4 separate regions of the Homo sapiens genome follow, and regions 1, 3 and 4 are each reported to be linked to region 2. The links are microRNA targets in miRTarBase. Many come from high-throughput screens and were not tested one by one. Region 2 holds a microRNA gene; each other region holds the end of a gene's coding sequence.

Evidence for each region. Region 2 holds the annotated microRNA hsa-miR-6131 (GGCUGGUCAGAUGGGAGUG, at 1,164-1,182, shown strand). A microRNA usually pairs through its seed, bases 2 to 8, with sites in the 3' UTR of a target mRNA and lowers its output. Matches are read on the target gene's strand: a 7mer-m8 pairs with bases 2 to 8, a 7mer-A1 pairs with bases 2 to 7 and ends in A, and an 8mer does both.
Region 1: miRTarBase lists IFRD1 as a target of hsa-miR-6131. Seed matches in the 3' UTR shown: 7mer-m8 at 1,659-1,665.
Region 3: the mRNA of ARL5B is a reported target of hsa-miR-6131. Seed matches in the 3' UTR shown: 8mer at 640-647, 7mer-A1 at 1,103-1,109 and 7mer-A1 at 1,297-1,303.
Region 4: miRTarBase lists CYCS as a target of hsa-miR-6131. The part of its 3' UTR that is shown has no 7-base or 8-base seed match.

Annotation. Positions count from the first base shown.
Region 1 is chr7:112,474,939-112,478,122 of GRCh38, reverse strand. IFRD1 (interferon related developmental regulator 1) reads right to left here. Exons shown (of 12, transcript NM_001550.4): 12 at 920-2,693. The coding sequence ends at 2,604. Among named protein-coding and RNA genes, the nearest start is that of LSMEM1, 4.5 kb to the left of the region's middle.
Region 2 is chr5:10,476,944-10,480,127 of GRCh38, forward strand. It overlaps MIR6131 (microRNA 6131), which reads left to right and starts at 1,094; the gene lies at 1,094-1,202. It also overlaps a transcript of ROPN1L not described here.
Region 3 is chr10:18,674,928-18,678,111 of GRCh38, forward strand. It overlaps ARL5B (ARF like GTPase 5B), which reads left to right. Exons shown (of 6, transcript NM_178815.5): 6 at 241-3,184. The coding sequence ends at 289. Among named protein-coding and RNA genes, the nearest start is that of ARL5B, 17 kb to the left of the region's middle.
Region 4 is chr7:25,120,786-25,123,965 of GRCh38, forward strand. CYCS (cytochrome c, somatic) reads right to left here. Exons shown (of 3, transcript NM_018947.6): 2 at 3,166-3,180; 3 at 1-3,064. The coding sequence ends at 2,916. Among named protein-coding and RNA genes, the nearest start is that of CYCS, 2.9 kb to the right of the region's middle.

The DNA.
Region 1 (3,184 bases), not on the chromosome of region 2:
GAAACTACTGAAAGAAGTGCTCCATGTTAACAAAGAAGTAAATTAAGACATGGGATCCAGAAAATGAGGGATACAATTCAAGAGAAAGAAAAACAAATCCTCACGATAGTGCTGTCTCAGGAAAACTGCTATACAATTGGATGAGAGAAACTAGTCTAGATTGAAACAAGTACAGAATCAAGAAAAGTTGTGACAAATTTATTTGGGACTGTTTGGGAAGAATCAATGATGTGCATAAAAAGCCAAAAAAAAGAGCATTAACTCCAAGACAAAACGTTGTATGAGAATGAAAATGTAAGCACATTAAATTAATTCACGAGTGAACATACAAGTATGATCACAGCTATGCAAACAGGTACATGATCTAACCAAAATAATATTAGAAGGATGTGAAACAATAAAAGAAATTTTCACCTGTCTTAATAGTAAGTTGACAAACACCTAAAAAATAAATGGCTGTATAATCATATTATTTAGAAACCTAAAACCAAAAACTGAAGGCTGAAAGAACCGAGCTAGAAAAAACTGAAGGCTGAATGTCTCTTGGGATGGGACTGAGGAATAGGAAAGGATGGAGCAAGGGGCTTTCCTTATTAGCCTTGAAGTACCATTAAACTATGTTCAGGCTGGGCACGGTGGCTCATGCCTGTAATCCCAACACTTTGGGAGACCAAGGCGGGCAGATCACTTGAGGTCAGGAGTTCAAGACCAGCCTGGCCAACATGGTGAAACCCCATCACAACTAAAAATATAAATTAGCCAGGTGTGGTGGAACACACCTGTAATCCCAGCAACTCAGGAGGCTGAGGCAGGAGAATCGTTTGGACCCTGAAGGCAGAGGTTACAGTGAGCCAAGATTGCGCTACTGCACCCCAGCCTGCGCAACAGAGGGAGACTGTCTCAAAAACAAACAAAAACCTATGTTCATACAACACTTTAATAAAAATTCATTATTTATTTATAATTACATGTACATACATATATGCATTTGAATATCTAGAAGAAACTACCATTTGCAATCTCTTTTCCATGGTTCTAACCTACTTGGAACATAACCAAGTGACAACATACAAACAAGTTCTAGATTCTAAACCTGTTTTCCACTGCACTGTAACTGGGGGATGGGACTCAGCAACAGTGACTCCATAAGCCAGCAAATGATTTTCACCTAGAGGGAGCACCAGACTTCCAAGAGTTGTTGGGATGTGGGAGGGGAACACTAGTTTGGAAAAAAGACCTTAAATGATTTTGATACTTCTCCCTACAGTATATATGCTTCCCTACCCCTCACGGCGACCTACAGCAAGAGTATCAAAGAAACAAGTCTACGGATTTGAAATGGCATGTTGCTTGCACTATATATTTTAATCTAAAGTTTATTAAATGTTAACGTGTTGTCAAAATGCTTTTCATAAAATGAAAGAAATATACCTCATGGGCAAACAAGCAGCAATATTCTTTTTTGTTTTGCTTTTGAGACAAGGTCTCACTCGTCACCCAGGCTGGAGTGGCACAATCACGGCTCACTGCAGCTTTGACCTCCTGGGCTCAAGTTACCCTCTTGCCTCAGCACCCAAGTAGATAAAGAGTAGAAGCACACACCACCACACTCATTTTTTAAATTTCTGGTAGAGACAGGGTCTCGCTATGTTGCCCAGGCTGGTCTCAAACTGGGCTCATGCCATCCTCCCGCCTCAGCCTCCCCAGAGTGCTGATTATAGGCATGAGCCACACTGCATGTTGCCAAGCAGAAATATTCTTGAAAGTCAGAAACCTTAATCCCAATTATGTATTGCTACATTCTTTTCATCTACTTTAATGTTTGTAAATATACACATAAAGCTTTGTCTCCCTGCCCACCTGGCCTAGTCATTTTGGACTCTGTACCTCAAAGCCATAAATAATATTTCTTCTATTAGAAGAGAAGCACTTTCAGTGTGGAAAAAAATCTTTATTTCAAAGTAAAATGCACAAAGTCTCATACAGCAGATAAAATCAGTGTTACTGCTCTCAGATGTTAAGGTTAGCAACCTTTCTGGCATATGCTAATTCATCATGAACTCCCAATAGCTGAACTGAATGGCTTTTAAGTACAGCTATAAGGTCTCATGGTATAATTCCTTTTGTTGATGCCAGTGACAGGATTTTAAAAGCTACATTCCATTAAAAATTAAAAATACAGCAGCTTTTCCAGGGGAACTAGATCCCAAAATTGTACCCAGAACTCTTGTCTAAGATATTAAGTTAAATATCTTGCATGTATATATCATTATAGTAAATCAGTATTCTTGACAACCACAGTGTAAGAAATTAAACTTTGGCTAATTGTTTTCCCCATCATGAAATCAGTCTTTTGCTGTCTTCATAAATAAATTATGACCAAACATTACAAATACTTTATACATGTTTACTGATTTACAGAGAATATTTAATAATCAGAACTCACCAGTTTCAATAGTATTGTACATTAAATTATAAGCAATATAACCACTGCTACAAAAGTTATCTAAGTTAATCCAGGATAAAAACTGTGTCTAGAGTTTAAATACATTGAAATAGAAAAAAAAATAGAAATTAGAAAATAGTCTTCAAGTTCTGAAAATCTAGAAGAATTCTCCAACATCTGCTCTCTTATCTCGACATTTGCTTCTAGCTTTGGTTCGAGCTTTGAAGGCTGCAGAGTTATATAAATGCTAAAATGAAAAAAAGGAAAAACGTGCATCAGTAAGACTTAAGATATTCTTACAAAACAGAAAAAGGGTAAAAGTCACAAAGAAAAGAAATGAACTAATTTGACCCTATAAACATTTAAATGTTTATAAAACACACACAAAGAATGAAGGAGAAAAACAAAGAGTTAACAGGGGCCATGCAAGGTGGCTCACACCTGTAATCCCAGCACTCTGGGAGGCCGAGGTGGGCGAATCACGAGGTCAGGAGATTGAGACCATCCTGGCTAACACGGTGAAATCCCGTCTCTACTAAAAATACAAAAAATTAGCCAGGCATGGTGGCACATGCCTGTAGTCCCAGCTACTCGGGAGGCTGAGGCAGGAGAATCGTTTGAACCCGAGAGGCAGAGGTTGCAGTGAGCCGAGATCACGCCACTGCACTCCAGCCTGGGCAACAGAACGAGACTCCGTCTCAAAAAAAATAAATAAATAAAGAGTTAATGGCTATTCCA
Region 2 (3,184 bases):
CCTGCAACCCTTTTCTGTAGTGCATCATATAGTAAATCTTTTGGGCTTTGCAGACATGCAGTCTCTGCTGCAACTGCTCAGCTCTGCTGTGTAGCATGAGAGCAGCCATAGACAATATGAAAATGAGTGAGTGTGGCCGTGTTCCAATAAAACTTTATTAATGAACACTAAAATTAAGTTCATAGAATTCCACATCACAAAATATTTTTCTTTTTGAACTTTTTCAACTACTTACAAGTGTAAAAACCATTTTTACCTTGTGGGCCATTGTTTGCTGACCCCGGGTCTATGCAGTTAACCTTGACCTTTTTCAACATGTTAAAGAGGTTAACCCACATTTACCGAGGGCCACTGACCTGGGCACTGTGTGGGGCGCTCCATGTCCTGGTCCACGGACTTGCTAGTCCACAGACTTGCTACCTTCATCTATAGGTAGCTCCTGCTACCGTTATTCACACTGTATAGATGAAGAAAGCAAAGCGGTCCTACTACAGGTGGAACAAGGACACGCAGCCAGCCAGGAACTGAGCTGACATCTGTTGATGGACAGGAAGGAAGGATTTGGGTCAGCCATCAAGACTCTCTCAGGACCTGAGGAAAAGGGCGGGAAACTTAGGAGCAAGATGACAGGAGGGCAGATGCTCCGTGAGGATGGCAGGAAGAGGACATGTATGCTTAATATTCTGGAAAATCCTCTGGGATAAGGCCAGGCACAGTGGCTCATGTCTGTAATTCCAGCACTTTGGGAGGCCAAGGCAATCGGATCATTTGAGGTCAGGAGTTCAAGACCAGCCTGGGCAACATGGTGAAATCTCATCTCTACTAAAAATACAAAAATTAGCTGGGTATGGTGGCGTTCACCTATAATCCCAGCTACTTGGGAGGCTGAGACAGGAGAATCACTTGAGCCCGGGAGGCAGAGGTTGCAGTGAGCAAAGATCACACTACTGCACTCCAGCCTTGGTGACAGAGTGAGATTCTGTCTAAAAAAAGAAAAAAAACTATTCAAAATCCTCCAGGATAAAACTCTCTGTTGAAGGAAGCTTTAATCAGCAGCGAGCACATCAGGCACACTCGTTGCTGCCCCTTCTCATCCCGCATTCCCTCTGCTTTGGTCAGGTGGTGCCCTCCTTCCATGGGTAGAGCCAGAGATGGTGGGTTCTGGCTGGTCAGATGGGAGTGGACAGAGACCCGGGGTCCTCCCGGCTTCATGACTGCACGTGGTGGGCCCTGCACTGTGTGTCTACTGGGATGGATCAAGGTGCAACCAGAGAAACCTTGAGCCCTCTCCAGATACTTGAGTGGTAGCTGAGTTCCTGCAGCCTCTGTGAGCTCCCTTCTGAGCCTCTGGCTCCCAGTTTCCCAGTACCCTTTCTGTATTAGCTTCCTGGGGCTGCCCCGACAAAGTATCACAAACTCAGGGGCTTCCGCAACAGAGATTTATTCTCTCACAGTCCTGGAGGCTAGAAATTTTTGGACTTCTAGCTTCCCGGACTTGATTGGCAGGGCCACACTTCCTTCTAAGGCTCTGGCTGGGGGTGGGGGTCCTTCCTGCTTCTGCCAGCTTCTGGTGATGCTGACAATCCCTGGCATTCCTTGGCGTGTGGGTGCATTACTCCAATCTCTGCCTCCCTCTTCACATGGTCTTCTCTGTGCGTACGACTGTGCATCCTCTCCTCTCGTAAAGGGCAGCAGTCGTTGGATTTAGAGCTCACCCTACTGTGGTATGATCTCATCTTAATGACATCTGCAACAGCCCTGTTTCCAAATAGGGCCACATTCTGAGGTTCTGGGTGGACATGAATTTTGGGGTGGGAAACACTCTTCAAGCCAGTAAATCTTCCTCCCCAAATCTTGCTAGGTTTCCAATGCCTAAAAGAAGTGCTAATTGGAGAAAATAAGAATAGTTTTCTACTTATCTCAGGAGCGGGAAAAGATGGCAAAATGGCATGGCCAATTTTGGAAAGAATATATAGGGTGTTGTAAAGATATGTGATGATGATGAGGATGATGTTTTCACCAATATTTGCAGCCTCTTGTCCACACAGAAGGATTAGGAAGATTAATGCCTTCGAAATCAGCTATATTTTAGCACTCTGTTTTTAGTGTTTTCATGATTATCCTGGTGTCCTTGTTTTTGAGGTGGCTGCTATAATTATGGTAACGTGTGTGAGTAGGTTAGAAAGATGTTACAAGTGATTAAGCTATAAATTAGTCACTTTGGAGTGTGTAATAGTTCTTTCAAGTCCCCAGCATATAAGGGAAAGTGACACTGGTCTACAATGACTGTCTCCATGCTTCCATGCAGAAATTGAGACCTGGAGAATGTAAAGACTTGCCCAAGTTCTGTGAGTGAGTCAGTGCTAGAAAAATCTTGAGCCCAGCCCCCCAGATGTGATGACTATTCTCTTTCAAATATTTCTACAGGATTAGAATGGGCGCTCAGGCTTGGCTCAGACACCCCACATCTTTAGGTGAGTGGCTTTTAAATTGCCATTTGGTCACGCCTACTTGGCAGAGTTGCAAACACGGGCTGCAGAGTTCACACCCGCACCCTCCTCTCTGGAAGTGGAGTGAGAACAGGGTGGGCAGAGGTGGGGCTGCCACACCTGCTTCCCTGGAAACCCGAGGGAGAGCACAGGACGCCAGGCTGGGACTCGGCTGGCAGCTGCTTCGGGCGTCTCACCTTGTGACTATTTCCTGGGCACTGTGGGAGAGGAGGCCTCTTGCCTGAGCTCCTGTCCCTACTGTCTCCTCTCACTAAATGCACGGCACGGCTTTGCGGTAATAGGCTGGGACATGTCAACTCTTTTTTTTTTCTGAGACGGAGTTTCTCTTGTTGTCCAGGCTGGAGTGCAATGGCACGATCTCGGCTCACGCAACCTCTGCCTCCTGAATTCAAGCAATTTTCCTGCCTCAGCCTCCCAAGTAGCTGAGATTACAGGCATGCGCCACCACGCCTGGCTAATTTTGTCTTTTTAGCAGAGACGGGGTTTCTCCATGTTGGTCAGGATGGTCTTGAACCCCCAACCTCAGGTGATCCGCCTGCCTCGACCTCCCAAAGTGCTGGGATTACAGGCATGAGCCACTGTGCCCAGCCAACATGTCAACTCTTTAGGAGAGTTTGAAGACAAAAAATAACCCATGTCTGAGCATGGGAGGTGCTAAAAATAGGAACTTCTTA
Region 3 (3,184 bases), not on the chromosome of region 2:
CTGGCAAAGTTGTATCTTCAAGATGAGACTGAAGCAATTTCCCACAAACTGATTAAGAATATTTAAGAGAACATTCCATTTAAAAATTTCACTTATTATAGTGTGACTTGAATGTTGACACTGATGTATATAAATAATGATTGTGCTACCAGCCTTTGGTTAAGACCTAAAAATAATAAGTACGCTTTCAGTTTTTAAGTATAAGGTTTTTAATTAAAAATACTTCTATCTTTTGTTTAGGTTATGCCAAGGTCTAGAGTGGATGACCTCCCGGATTGGTGTGAGATAACTTTTTTGCTTGAAAGAGACTGCTCTATTTATTCTGTGACATGAACATTTTTTCCTAGTACCTTTGGCTGCTAAGGCAGCAGCATGTTTAATTTATAACAACACAAACCTCTGAGAGCAACACTTGAATCAAGTGCAGCTGAACTGGAACATAAAAGATTTTTTCTTAACTTTTTTTTTTTAACACACTAATCTTCAGTTGGATGAATGTAATGTATAACTATGTTTTCAGCAACAATTCTTCTGTTTATTCTAATTAATCAGTGACTGCCTTGTAAGAAATGTTTGTCATATGCGTGATGTCTTCTGAAATATTCTTATAACCTTAATGACCAATTGCTTTCAATTCTTGACCAGCACTCCCTCCCAACCAGAGAATTACTGGTTTGATAGAGTAGTCTTGGAAACCATCAGGTACTGCCTGCAGACTTCTCCAGCACTAAATATATTTGTTCCCTCTATAAACCATTCATCTTTCGGACAGAACTTACTGTAAAGAAAGAAATCTGCCTAGAGGATATATGTAAGGAAGATTCCACATCATGAGTACTTGCCTTTTAACTTTCCCCCACATTACTGTTGAGTCATGGAATAATGTTTAAGTTGTTATTTGCATGGAAATTAAGTAGGCTGTTTATTTATCTAAAGGAATCAAGTCCACTCTTCTGCCTGCAACATTTGTTCAAAAACTAACCAAGGTAAAATATTTATTTGAAAGCCCAACTTTGATGTTAAATATTCTTGAATAAATCTGTTATTTTAAGAATATCACATTATTCAATGCATATAAAACTATCAGAAGTTAGTAAATCATACCAGCACTAAAAATAAGACAATTGGAATATATTTTAGCATCAGTTTACAAACAACTTTATTATCAACAGAAATTTTAGCTCTTTTCTTTGCAAGATATATCACAGCTGCTTTGGGCAGTAGCTGAAGCCGAAGTATGAACAGTCCATTTTGTTTCTTAAAATTTGAAGTCGTGTCTGTCATAGCATTTTTACTACCAGCAGTATGTTACTTAAAAAACTACATGGCTTTCCTTGAATTTATTTGACGGTATTATGTAATAGACTTGAAACAATTGCCATCTTTGTAGTTATGCCTTGGGTTCTAAAATGTTATAGGAAACTGCTGAATTGAATCCTAGCTTTTAGAATATTAATAGGAGACTCAAAGTTAATATTCTTAACAACTTAAAATTAAAAAAAGTCATAATCTATCAAAAGTTTATTTATTGGATGGCATTAAAACATTTTTGAGGCAGTTGTCTAATATGAACAATAATCTAAACAATATATTCCTTAAATTAAGAGGAAAGACAAGTGTCGTATTTCGATCCTGTTTATTCAAATGTGTGATTTTGCTGAAATGAAAGGGATAAAATGAATACTTAGAGAATAATACTTCATTTTTGCAGTACTTTTTAATTTTGATAAAAAAGATACAAAGTTCATAATATCAAAATATGTGTTCAAAATTGGTATTTTAATTTTAATATTTTTGTAAGTTGATTTAAATTTTGCTCTTTTTTCAGGTGTGCTTGGTTTATTATATTTAGTCAAGTTAATTTAGTCGAATGTGGTAACATTTTTCTGATTTATCTTTAGTTGGAGCACACCCTTGAACTGAACAGTGGCCAAAGGAAAGCTTTCTGGGCTTTGGAAAGTAGTTGTTTAACTTTGTTTTAAGCCGTTTTCTTAGTGATTCTGTATCAAGTAGAGGATAAGTGTAGTTTAACTTAGTTTTTAATATAACCCATAATCAAGAACATGAGCGAAAAGCAGACATAAATCGATATGGATGGTTTGTGGTGTGTGTGGGATGTGGGGGAATTAAGAAAATGCCATTTACCTAAGCACAGTTTGCCTGAATTTCTGCTTGGTTGTGTTGTTTACCGTAAGTACTGAGGGTAGTTTCCCTAAGTCTGTCCTGAGAAAAAGCATACTTAGTACTCCTGTATTTGTTCTTATGAAATGACTATCTGCCTTCTTGTATCTAGTAAGATTGGCTGGCTCAATTTTCTTCTGTCAAATTATATGGTTATTTTTTATATTACCACATCAGCATTATATTAAAAGTGTTTTTAATAGTTGATTGTATTTTGCCAACTACTAGTATAGACTCAAATTTGCTATTTAATTTTTAAAATACAATTTATTTTGTAAATCCTTTAAAAAATATTTGGTTAGTTTTGGATTAGAAATGATTTATGTTAGCCATGTGTTGAAGATGAAATTGGCATCAGTGTAGACGGTGCTGATTGGGAAAAGTTCATGATTAGGAAATTCATGTAAGACTTTTTAAGAGTATTTTTTAGGTTTTCACTCAATCTTTCCTGTCACAGTAACGTGAAAACTGATTATTCTTTACTCCAAGAGAATGTTTTAACCCAAGCAAGTATCTAATACTAGAGCATTGGTTCTGACATTCATTGTAAATCAGTGAACTGTAAGATACTGTCTAAAAAATGTACATTTGTAATTAGTGCCTTTATTCATATTTTGAAATAAGTTCTTAGTTTTATATTATACCTGTTCTTTAGAAGTCATGTTAGCAGCTAATTATTTCAGTGATGAAATAATTTGTGTTTTATATCCCCCTTCACCTCCATGTATTGGTTAGCACAGTTTATAGTAAGTGAAAAGCAAGGGACCCACCTACATTACCTTCAGGAGACTGTTCTACCTTTTAATTTGAAAACAAGGAAATTAAATTTTAACAGAAATCTTTTAAGTATGTTATAACCAAAGTGTTCAATTATCCTTGCAAGTTCAAATACAGCATTTTTCTTAATTTTGAGCGTGTCATGTCCTTCATCTTTAAACCCATCATTCTTATTGAAGCCCATTTGAGAACTCTTAGAATTAATAGAACCTTTTATAAGGGAATA
Region 4 (3,180 bases), not on the chromosome of region 2:
TATTTCTGAAGGTATATATCCCTGATAGAAATGTCCTTTTTAAAAAATTACATAATTGGCCAGGCGTGGTGGCTCACGCCTGTAATCCCAGCACTTTGGGAGGCCGAGGCAGGTAGATCACCTGACGTCGGGAGTTCAAGACCAGCCTGTCCAGCATGGAGAAACCCTGTCTCTACTAAAAACACAAAATAAGCTGGGCATGGTGGCGCATGCTTGTAATCCCAGCTACTTGAGAGGCTGAGTCAGGAGAATCGCTTGAACCTGGAAGGCGGAGGTTGCGGTGAGCAGCGATCACGCCATTGCACTCCAGCCTGGGCAACAAGAGTGAAATTATCTCAAAAAAATAAAAATAAAAAAGTTACAGAATCACATTTTAAACCACCAGAAGTGCTTGGGTATAACTGACCTAGAACATGGCAGTTACTCATCTGTGCCAACACAGACCTTAATATAGGAGGCATAGAAATGAGAAAAATTGGCCGGACGTGGTGGCTCACACCTGTAATCCTAGAACTTTGGGAGGCCAAGGTGGGTGGATCACGAGGTCAGGAGTCCAAGACCAGTCTGGCCAACATGGTGAAACACCATCTCCACTAAAAATACAAAAATTAGCCAGGCGTGGTGGCGGGTGCCTGTAATCCCAGCTACTCAGGAGGCTGAGGCAGGAGAATCACTTGCAACTGGAAGGCGGAGGTTGCAGTGAGATTGCACCACTGTACTCAGCCTGGGCGAAAAGGGCGAAACTCCGTCTCAGAAAAAATAAATGAGAAAAATTTTAAACCTGAAAAAAAATTAAACCTAAGTTACTACTGGGCTGATTACTTCTGGGTTAAATAATAAGATTTCTGAATTTGAAAACCAGGCAGGGCCTGGTGGCTCACGCCTGTAATCCCAGCACTTTGGGGAGCCAAGGCAAGTGGACGGATTGCTTGAGCTCAGGAGTTTGAGACCAGCCTGGGACCACATGGCAAAACTCCATCTCTACAAAAAAATTAGCTGGGCATGGTGGCGAACACCTGTAGTCCCAGCTACTTGGGAAGCTGAAGTGAGAGAATCGCTTGAGCCTGGGAAATAGAGGTTGCAGCCAGCCGAGATCGCACCACTGCACTCCAGCCTTGGCGACACAGCGTGACCATGTCTCAAAAAACAAACTAAACGCCACAACTAGCCAAGATGGAAGGTTGAACACATTTCTGTATCTATCTTAATATGTTTCCTGTATCATTTCCAGGATGCCAAAAAAAAAAAAAATCAACTCTCTAGCCTTCACTTCAGGTCTTTCTCATTAGTCCAGAATTGTCCCCTTGTAAGCTACTTGCTACACTGTCCCTGAATACCACTAACTTTATACAGTCACCAAGTCCTCTGCTACAAGGCCTTTCAAAGTCTGAAATCTTTAAAGGATTTCCAGGATGCATTTTTAAATTCCCCACCAGAACTCAGACTAGGACTTCAAATATGAATTACAGCAAGCTTTCCACATTTCTATAAATAAAAATAAGACTCATATGTTATAAATTGCTTTCAGGCCTTAAAACACCTATCTAATCGTCCCTATCACCTTTGAGACCATGGATTCACATCTTCTCAGTCTTCTCACTGTCCCACAAAGATACAGTTCTCAGCTGCACCAGCATAGATTTATTTTCTCATTATTCTTTATGACTTACCTTGTGCTCACCATCTCCATAAAATCTCCAAGGACTACTCTAAATGTGTATGGCACAGACTATGCATGAAATAATTCAGTATGTAATTATACACTGTTACACATCACAAAACTATGACCACAGGCATTCCTCTGTCCATGTCTGGCATAAATGCTGCAGTTCTCAATCTGAGCAAAGAAACTAAGAGTCAATTAGTGAAGTGTTATTCTAGTTGAGGCAGTCCTAGAAAACCAAGTAAACAATCTAGCACCATGACTGGTTAACACTGCTGCACTGACATTTAGGGCTGCTGCACTGACATTTAGGGCTCCTGCACTTTTTAATCATTAAAATTTGTGCATCAGTCATGAAATCAAGCACAGTCAAAAAGTCATGATCTGTGGTTTTCTTTTTAATTATCTTTAGTCTTGTGATCACACATAATTTTAAAATTTGTGTATATCTCCGTTACTTTAATCCTTTTAAGTTGGCAAAAGCACCATTCCCAATCAAATACACAGTTCTACAGTTTTGTTTCTGAATGGCTGTTTAAAGACAATCCTAAATTATAACTTAGTTTGACTTAGATTGTAAAGAATTCAAGAGTGAAGTTTAACTTGCTACTATTTTAAAAGCATGTGACCTTATAGATCTGTAAGATGTGAGAGGTGTTGAATAATCTTTAATATTACACATAAACCACACTAAAATGCCTTTCAATAAGTAAAAGAAACCATTTTAAATACAGGGAATTATAATTAGATTGGCATAGTTAAGGCCAAAACTATAGACATTGCTACCTTATTTATCTTCAACCCTTGCCTTTAAGAGGCAAATGAACATGAACACAAAACACAGGTGAATCTTGCTTGGTTCTAAGACAGTGAAGCAATTTCCCCAGTATTTAAATATATTCACATAACCAGTTATATAAATCTAAATATAAAACCAATCTCCAGTAAGTTTTAAGATGGCACTCACCATCTTTGTGAAAAGTTGAACATTACTAACGAAGTCTAATCATATCTTTAAAAGGGGTAAACAGTGATACCATTTACTGAATTGGAGTTACTATTAAAATTCAAAAACTGAACATATTCATTTAACCACAAGCCAGTCTTAGTTTTAAATCAGGACTGCCCAACAAAATATTCTGTCAGTCATTCATGATCTGAATTCTGGTGTATGAGATCTATTAAAGGATGGTACACATAAAAAAGTCATGAGACATTTCTGTTTTGTAATAAATAAGGCAGTGGCCAATTATTACTCATTAGTAGCTTTTTTGAGATAAGCTATTAAGTCTGCCCTTTCTTCCTTCTTCTTAATGCCGACAAAGATCATTTTTGTTCCAGGGATGTACTTCTTGGGATTCTCCAAATACTCCATCAGTGTATCCTCTCCCCAGATGATGCCTAAACAAGAAAGAATGCATCGGTTATTTCACACTCCTGATAGTTTGCCACATGTTATATTCCTGCATTTTGTGTTGTTTTATTTAACAAGTGACTCTTACCTTTGTTCTTATTGG